Regions from separate parts of the Homo sapiens genome. Here region 1 is reported to be linked to region 2. The links are microRNA targets in miRTarBase. Many come from high-throughput screens and were not tested one by one. Region 2 holds a microRNA gene; the other region holds the end of a gene's coding sequence.
What was found. The annotated mature microRNA hsa-miR-6824-3p reads UCUCUGGUCUUGCCACCCCAG and lies in region 2 at 1,643-1,663, shown strand. An mRNA with a match to its seed (bases 2 to 7 or 8) in the 3' UTR can be bound and repressed. Matches are read on the target gene's strand: a 7mer-m8 pairs with bases 2 to 8, a 7mer-A1 pairs with bases 2 to 7 and ends in A, and an 8mer does both.

Region 1: miRTarBase lists MED18 as a target of hsa-miR-6824-3p. Seed matches in the 3' UTR shown: 8mer at 3,119-3,126.

What each region holds. Positions count from the first base shown.
Region 1 is chr1:28,334,508-28,338,892 of GRCh38, reverse strand. MED18 (mediator complex subunit 18) reads right to left here. Exons shown (of 3, transcript NM_017638.3): 3 at 2,928-4,385. The coding sequence ends at 3,923. Among named protein-coding and RNA genes, the nearest start is that of MED18, 7.7 kb to the right of the region's middle.
Region 2 is chr3:48,630,914-48,635,298 of GRCh38, reverse strand. MIR6824 (microRNA 6824) reads left to right here and starts at 1,601; the gene lies at 1,601-1,663. It overlaps SLC26A6 (solute carrier family 26 member 6), which reads left to right. Exons shown (of 21, transcript NM_022911.3): 2 at 1,664-1,822; 3 at 1,909-2,048; 4 at 2,215-2,325; 5 at 2,903-3,054; 6 at 3,255-3,419; 7 at 3,498-3,650; 8 at 3,993-4,075; 9 at 4,159-4,306. RefSeq lists a silencer at 300-399.

The DNA of each region.
Region 1 (4,385 bases), not on the chromosome of region 2:
GACTTTGGACAACAGAAAAAAGAAATTTGAAGTTGGTTGTAGTGGCTCATGCCTGTAATCCCACCATTTTGGGAGGCCAAGGCAGGCGGACTGTTTGAGCCCAGAAATTTTAGACCAGCCTGGGCAACGTGGTGAAACCCTATCTCTACAAAAAAATGCAATAATTAGCCAGGTGTGGTGGTGCATGCCTGTAGTCCCAGCTACCTGGGAAGCTGAGGTTGGAAGACCACCTGAGCCTGGGATGTCGAGGCTGCAGTGAGCTGTGATTGTGCCACTGCGCTCCAGTCTAGGCAACAGAGTGAGAAGACTATCTGAAAAAAAAAAAAAAATTGAGAAACCTCTCTGTATAACCTCATCTATAAAATGGAAATAATAACAACTCACAACCCTCATACAGTTGTTATGAGAAGTACATGAGTTGAAACATTTAAAGTACCTGTCATGGCTGGGTGCGATGGCTCAAGTCTGTAATTCCAGCACTGTGGGAGGCCAAGGCAGGTGGATCACCCAAGGTCAGGAGATCAAGACCATCCTGGCTAACATGGTGAAACCTCATCTCTACTAAAAATACAAAAATTAGCTGGGCATGGTGGTGGCCGCCTGTAATCCCAGCTACTCGGGAGGCTGAGGCAGGAGAATCGCTTGAACCCGGGAGGCAGAGGTTGCAGTGAGCTGCGATTGCATCATTGCACTCCAGCCTGGCAACAAGAGCAAAACTCCCTCTCAAAAAAAAAAAAAAAAAATCAAAATTAGCTGGGCGTGGTAGCACATGCCTGTAATCCTAGCTATCCAGGAGGCTGAGGTAGGGGCATCGCTTGAACCCGGGAGAAGGAGGTTGCAGTGAGCCGAGATGGCACCACTGCACTCCACCCTGGGTGACAGAGCAAGACTCTGTCTCAAAAAATAAATGAATTAATAAATAATAAAAATAAAGTACCTGTCATGGAGCAAACACTATTTAAACACTAATACTTTTATTAGTATGAAAGCATATGCAAGTTGGAAGTTATGAGTTAGATTTACATAGAGTAACAAGTACATATCAGGCCAGGCACAGTGGCTCATGTCTGTAATCCCAGCATTTTGGGAGGCTGAGGCAGGCAGATCACTTGAGTTCAGAAGTTCGAGACCAGCCTGGCCAACATGGTGAAACCCCCTCTCTACTAAAAATACAAAAATTAGCTGGAAATCACCTGAACCCAGGAGGCGGAGGTTGCAGTGAGCTGAGATCATGCCATTGCACTCCAGCCTGGGCGACAGAGCAAGACTCTGTCTCAAAAAAATAAATAAATAAAAGCTCTATTGTTACACAGCTTATAAAAGCAAAAAAAATGGGATCAAACTGAAAATCATAGAGGATTCAATTAGATAACTTATAGCAAATCCATATGATGAAATAGAAATAGCAATTATAATTGTCAATATTTAAATACCAGCTCTGCCAATCAGTAGCTGTATAGCTCAGGGAAAGTTAATTAATCTATATGTACCAGTTCTCCTGTTTACAAAACGGGTTTAACATACCTGAAGCACTTAGGATAGCACTGACACATAACAGGAACTCAATAAACTAGCTTTAAAAAGAAAAAAATTTTGGCCGGGTGCGGTGGCTCATGCCTGTAATCCCAGTACTTTGGTGAGGCTGAGGTAGGGAGTTCGAGACTAGCCTGACCAACATGGTGAAACACCGTTTCCTTCTTCTTTTTTTTTTTTTTTGAGACGGAGTCTTGCTCTGTCGCCCAGGCTGTACTGCAGTGACGCGATCTCAGCTCGCTGTAAGCTCCGCCTCCCGGGTTCAAGCAATTCTCCTGCCTCAGCCTCCCGAGTAGCTGGGACTATAGGCGGCCGCCACCACGCCCGGCTAATTTTTGTATTTTTAGTGGAGACGGGGTTTCACCGTGTTAGCCAGGATGGTCTTGATCTCCTGACCTCATGATCTGCCCACCTCGGCCTCCCAAAATGCTGGGATTACAGGCGTGAGCAACGCGCCCTGCCCGAAACACCGTTTCTTAAAAACACAATGCCACTGCACTCCAGCGTGGACAACAGTGAGACCCTTTCTCGAAAATAAAAAATATAATACAAAAAATTAAGGCCGGGCGCGGTGGCTGACGCCTGTAATCCCAGCACTTTGGGAGGCCGAGCGGGGCGGATCACGAGGTCAGGAGATTGAGACCATCCTGGCTAACACTGTGAAACCCCGTCTCTACTAAAAATACAAAAAATTAGCCGGGCGTGGTGGCGGGCGCCTGTGGTCCCAGCTACTCGGGAGGCTGAGGCAGAAGAATGGCGTGAACCCGGGTGGCGGAGCTTGCAGTGAGCCGTGAGTGCGCCACTGTACTCCATCTCAAAAAAAAAAAAAATTAGCCGGGCATGGTGGCCCATGCCTGTAATCCCAGCTACTTGGGAAGCTGAGGCAGGAGAATCACTTGGACCTGGGAGGTGGAGGTTGCAGTGAGCTGAGATCATCGCAGTACTGCACTCCAGCCTGGGCAACAAGAGCGAAACTCTGTCTCAAAAAAAAAAAAAAATTTTTTTTAACAAAAGGGGAGTGTAGACAAATGTCCTGGAAAGATGTTAATGATAGATGAATGGGAAAAAAGGGTTATAAACCAGTATATATGGAATCTTTTTATAAAATAAACACATTTCATATACATAAATTTATAAAAAAATAAAGACTAGATGGATATATACCAAAATAGAACTAGTACTTCTCTTTGGATAATAGGTGTTATTTTCTATCTGTACTATATTTTAAAAGTTTTCAACAATAAATATGCTACTTTTATGAAAGGTGAAAACTCTCATCCTCATCTCTGCCACAATTAAAACTAGGAACTGTCATTTTTTTTGCTTCAACTGGTAATGAATCTACCCCAAATTTACAGGGTAAGGGAATAAAGAATCAGAATTACACAGACATGTCTCTTCATTGGCTTTATTACCATGTAACACAAGCTCACAGCCTCTAATGTTACCAACCTTATACACAAATGGCCAAACAAGAAATTGTCCTTTCCAAAAGATAATTTATTCTGGTTTCCCCTCTTCATTTTTATTTTTTTTTGAGACGGAGTTTCGCTCTTCTCACCCAGGCTGGAGTGCAATGGCGTCATCTCTGGTCACTGCAACCTTCACCTCCTGGGTTCAAGCGATTCTCCAGCCTCAGCCTCCCAAGTAGCTGGGATTACAAGCGCCTGCTACCATGCCCGGCTAAATTTTGTATTTTTCGTAGAGATGGGGTTTCACCATTTGGCCAGGCTGGTCTCAAACTCCTGACCTTGGGTGATCCACCTACCTCAGCCTCCCAAAGTGCTGGGATTAGAGGTGTGAGCCACTGCGCTTGGCCCGGTTTCCCCTCTTAATACAGTGGGATTAGATAGATTCTCCGTGACATCCTGAGCCTTTAATATAGAAAGGCTGTCATGAAAGTGAAATCGCCACATGAGGAGAACAGTGCAAAGAACCAATTAATTCTCACCATCCTCTCCCTGAAGGAAGAATGCCTGCCTGGCAATGGTGAAATGGGACATTTAAAACATATTTTTTTGGCCAGGCGTGGTGGCTCATGCCTGTAATCCCAGCACTTTGGGAGGCCAAGGTGGGTGGATCACGAGGTCAGGAGTTCGAGAATAGCCTGACCAACATGGTGAATCCCCATTTCTACTAAAAATACAAAAATTAGCTGAGCATGGTGGCATGTGCCTGTAATCCCAGCTACTCAGGAGGCTGAGGTGGGAGAATTGCTTGAACCCAGGAGGCAGAGGTTGCAGTGAGCCGAGATCGTGCCACTGCACTCCAGCCTGGGAAACAAAGCGAGACTCTGTCTCAAAAACAAAACAAAACAAAAACCAAAAAAAGCAAACATATTTTTTCAAACAAGTAAGGATAGGCCCCAAATGTGGACAGATCCTCTTAGTCACATGAGCCTCTTGGGGTCTATTTTCTCTAGGTGAACCAGAGGTTTTAGCTGTTCTGCGAAGTTCTTCATGTCATCAGAGACCATGTCCTGCCCAGCGGGTGCTACCACACTTAATTCCACGAGATAGGAGAGTGACAAGGCCTCAGTGCTGTCTGTGTTCCCTGGCACCAGGATGCGGAAAATCTTGTACACCATAATCTTCATGATGCCCTTACGGAACAAATGTCCCTTAGCAACAAACTCATGGTCCATGCGGAAGCCCATTTCCATCAAGAAGTCGGTGAGGTTCTCAGATGTGGCAATGTCCACGCAGTTTCGCACCAGGGCATGGCGGTTCTTGTCTCCCATTTCTGGCTGTCCCAGGTAGCGCAGATGCCAGGGTGCCCCTGCCCTGTCCATAGAGCGTCGGGCCCTGAGAACAAATGGGCTGGCTTGCTGGCCCTTAAGGAGGAATACCATC
Region 2 (4,385 bases):
CCTCGCTGGAGCAGGCATTCTCCGCTTGCGACGCCTCGGTTTACCTCTGCTGATTTTCTGCAGGCGGCTGCCCCTCTGCAGCAAGGGGTGGGGGCGGGAGCCGGCGCGACCCCAGTCCCTTGGGCTGTGCGGAAAGCCGCTGGTGTGACGCCCGAGGGCCATCCCGGGCCACAGGGAGGCAGCTGCGTGCGGAGGAGCCCGGCCAGGAGATGTGCCGGCGGGGGTGCGTGGGGCACGGGAGTCCCTGGCAGCGGCCCGTGGACTAGCTGCTTTCAGCTGAGTCCCGAGTCCACCCAGCTCCACTGATCCCGGAGTGAGCGCTCCGGCCTTTCTGGCCCCAGTTGCCTTCCTACAGGGAGGGGCCAATGATCAAGGCTCCGCCCTCCAAACGCGGGTCCCAAGTTGTCGGGGGAGGGAGCCCTTTAAGAAGACCTGAGTGACTCACGTAGGAAAGGAGAGGGGGCTCTACGATCTCCTTGAGATAGCGGTCCCAAGAGTCTCTGAGGATCTTCCTTGCACCCACTCCACACTCCTCCAACAGTACAGCCAGGTTAGAGGCGCTTCCCAGGTGAGTTCCTGTCCCTCAAATGGGATCCTCTCCCCAGGTCAGGGCTTTTCCTAGATCAGAACTTTCCTGACTGGTGAAAGCTTCCCCAACAGGCTAGAGTTTTCCCCCAGGTAAGATCCTTCTGTGAGATCTATTCCCAGGTGACAGCTTTTCCCCATTCCACGTGGGAGCCTCGCCCGAGGTCAGAGCTTTCTCTATGGGAGAGTACCCCCCAGGTGAGAACCCTCTCCCTCTAGGTCTTTTCTTCCCATGTGAGATCTTTCTCTGACTTCAAGTAGGTGCCTCTGGGCAGAGGGAAGATTCCCCCTGTATCAGAACTTGCCAGGCTGATAAAGATTCCCTGGTAGGTCAGAGATCCCTCTAGGTGAGATTCCCCTTGAAAGCTTCTATTCCCAGGTGAGCTCTTTCCCCCACTTCAAGTGGGTACTTCCCTTTCCATGTGGGAGCCTCTCCCTCTAGGTGAGAGATTGCCACTCCAAGAGCAAGCTCCTTCTCAGGTGAGAGCCAGTCCTTGGCTTCCCCATAACAGGCCTGAGCCGTCTACAACCTGGACCCTGGGGCTGGAGGCCCAGGGGCAAGCTTGGCTCCAACACTTTCCTTCCCTTAGAGGGGAGGGTCTCATCTGAGGCCTGAGGCTTGGGAAAGGAGTTGCTTGAGGAGCTGGACCCCTGGTTTGCTGGACCCCTTCCCTGAGTGTGCTCTCAGCCAGCAGTGGGCTCCCGGGGCAGCTGGAGGAGGACCTGGGGACTGGAGAGGGACTGGGTGGGGGAGGGAGCAGCCTGGGACCTGGACTGGTAGAACACTCAGCACTGGGCTGCCACATCTCGGCTGGAGGTATAGCTAGTGCTCATCCTGCAGTCCCTACTTGGGGGACTTTGTCCTAGAAAGAGGCTTTCTCACCAGCCAAAGTTCAGGTACTGCCCCTGTCTGAGTTTGGACATGTGGCCCACAGATGCCAGCTGGGGGCTGGAATACTGTACCTTGATCTTAGGGCCTGGAAAAATCAGGTAGGTAACTCTCTGGTCCTAGGTGGAGGTGTAGGGGAGGTTGGGCCAGGGATGCCTTCACTGTGTCTCTCTGGTCTTGCCACCCCAGACCGAGGGACACACAGGCACTGCTGTCTGCAACACAAGCAATGGACCTGCGGAGGCGAGACTACCACATGGAACGGCCGCTGCTGAACCAGGAGCATTTGGAGGAGCTGGGGCGCTGGGGCTCAGCACCTAGGACCCACCAGTGGCGGACCTGGTTGCAGTAAGGCCAAGATTGGGGCCTGGGGGCGCTGGCGGGGCCCAGGTAGCCCCTGTTCCTGACACCTACCCCTCATATCATGTCCCTAGGTGCTCCCGTGCTCGGGCCTATGCCCTTCTGCTCCAACACCTCCCGGTTTTGGTCTGGTTACCCCGGTATCCTGTGCGTGACTGGCTCCTGGGTGACCTGTTATCCGGCCTGAGTGTGGCCATCATGCAGCTTCCGCAGGGTGAGCCACCTTCAGTGCGTCGGCCTGGAAACCCTGTGGTCTGTGATGCCCAAAACTGGGGCCATGACCTCTACCTTGGAACTATGGCACCTAACCCAGGGCTGGGATTCCCTTATCGTTTCAAGATCTGCTCTCCAGGCCTGCACTGCTACCATTCTACCCCTAGGCTTGGCCTACGCCCTCCTGGCTGGATTGCCCCCCGTGTTTGGCCTCTATAGCTCCTTCTACCCTGTCTTCATCTACTTCCTGTTTGGCACTTCCCGGCACATCTCCGTGGGTAAGTGGAGGCAGGCCTAGCCTTCCAGGAGGATGCCCACATCCATCATGGAGGGCAGGGTGAGGGGGCACTGAGCAGGGCAGGAGCGGCTGGGGAAGAGGGCAGCATTGGTGCTGCATCCCTGGGCTAGCCCACGAGTCATCCCCAGGCAGGACTAGACCCCTGACTGTAGGACCACAGAGGCAGGTGACCTCAAAGCCCTGGCTCCAGGAAGATGAGAGTGGGTGAGGCAGCCCAAGGGGCCTGGAACTTGGCAGAGGCCTGAGCAGCCTAAGGCCAGCCCTGACCCCTTCCCTACTCCACAGAGAGCCTCTGTGTCCCGGGACCAGTAGACACAGGTGGGACAGGGTAGATGAGACAGGGCCAGCATTTCTAGCCATGCTTAAGGGCCTGTGAGCTCAGGGTTTACTCCTGGCCTGGCCAAACCTGAACCGCCAGCACTGTCCCTGTTCATGCAGCCATAATCTGAGTACATTTATCCAGAACTGGAAGTCTCCTGGCCTCTCTCTTAAGACCAGGGCTCCAGGGCAGGGCAGTGTCCTCTCCTCTTCAGACCTGCCCCGTGCCGTCCTTACAGGGACCTTTGCTGTCATGTCTGTGATGGTGGGCAGTGTGACAGAATCCCTGGCCCCGCAGGCCTTGAACGACTCCATGATCAATGAGACAGCCAGAGATGCTGCCCGGGTACAGGTGGCCTCCACACTCAGTGTCCTGGTTGGCCTCTTCCAGGTGTGGAACAGTCAGGAGTATGTGCCCCCCACCACCACTTCTGCTCCCGCCACTGTCCTGTCTGTACTCCCCTGAGTGTCTGACCATCGTCGTCCTCCTCTTGCCGTCTACTCATCCCCCTCCCATCCCACTTGCCCTGCGCTCCTCATTAGCAACCCCAGGACCCCTGCCTCTCCTGACTGCCCCTGGCCGCCCCACAGGTGGGGCTGGGCCTGATCCACTTCGGCTTCGTGGTCACCTACCTGTCAGAACCTCTTGTCCGAGGCTATACCACAGCTGCAGCTGTGCAGGTCTTCGTCTCACAGCTCAAGTATGTGTTTGGCCTCCATCTGAGCAGCCACTCTGGGCCACTGTCCCTCATCTATGTGAGTGAGGGTAGGGGGAGGGAGGGGTAGGTGTGCCCCATGGCCTTGAGTGCTAGCTGTGACCTGGCCTCTCCTCAGACAGTGCTGGAGGTCTGCTGGAAGCTGCCCCAGAGCAAGGTTGGCACCGTGGTCACTGCAGCTGTGGCTGGGGTGGTGCTCGTGGTGGTGAAGCTGTTGAATGACAAGCTGCAGCAGCAGCTGCCCATGCCGATACCCGGGGAGCTGCTCACGGTTCGAGGGCCAGGGAGTGGAGGGCAGGGGAGAAGGGCAGGTCAGGCTGGGTCCTTGCCACGTGGGCAGCCTCCTGTATTTGAGGGCCAGCTGGAGGGGGGCTGGGAGGGTTCTTGGGTATTGTGGGGGGCACAGCAGAAAGCCCCTATGTTGGTTTCTTCCTGCCCCTGACAGCATCTCCCCATAGCCGAAATGGTGTTGCCTGTCTCTCACCCTACGTGACTTTTTCCCACCCTCGAAGAAGGTTTTGCCCAGTATCTCCCTCCTCACCTCACAGTGGTTTATGTGTCCCCCTGACCATGGTGCCAGCACCTGCCTCCCTGACTCTGTCCTCTCCCACAGCTCATCGGGGCCACAGGCATCTCCTATGGCATGGGTCTAAAGCACAGATTTGAGGTAGATGTCGTGGGCAACATCCCTGCAGGGTGAGCTCTGGCCTCCATCAGGTCAGGGAGGGTTGGGCAGCCAGGACAGGACCTTGCTTTGGCCTCACAGATACCTCTCACAGGCTGGTGCCCCCAGTGGCCCCCAACACCCAGCTGTTCTCAAAGCTCGTGGGCAGCGCCTTCACCATCGCTGTGGTTGGGTTTGCCATTGCCATCTCACTGGGGAAGATCTTCGCCCTGAGGCACGGCTACCGGGTGGACAGCAACCAGGTCTGGGTGATGCGGGATGTGTAGGAGGCATCCAAGTGTATGGAGGCGCCAGCAACGGGTGGGGGAGGAACCGGTGGGA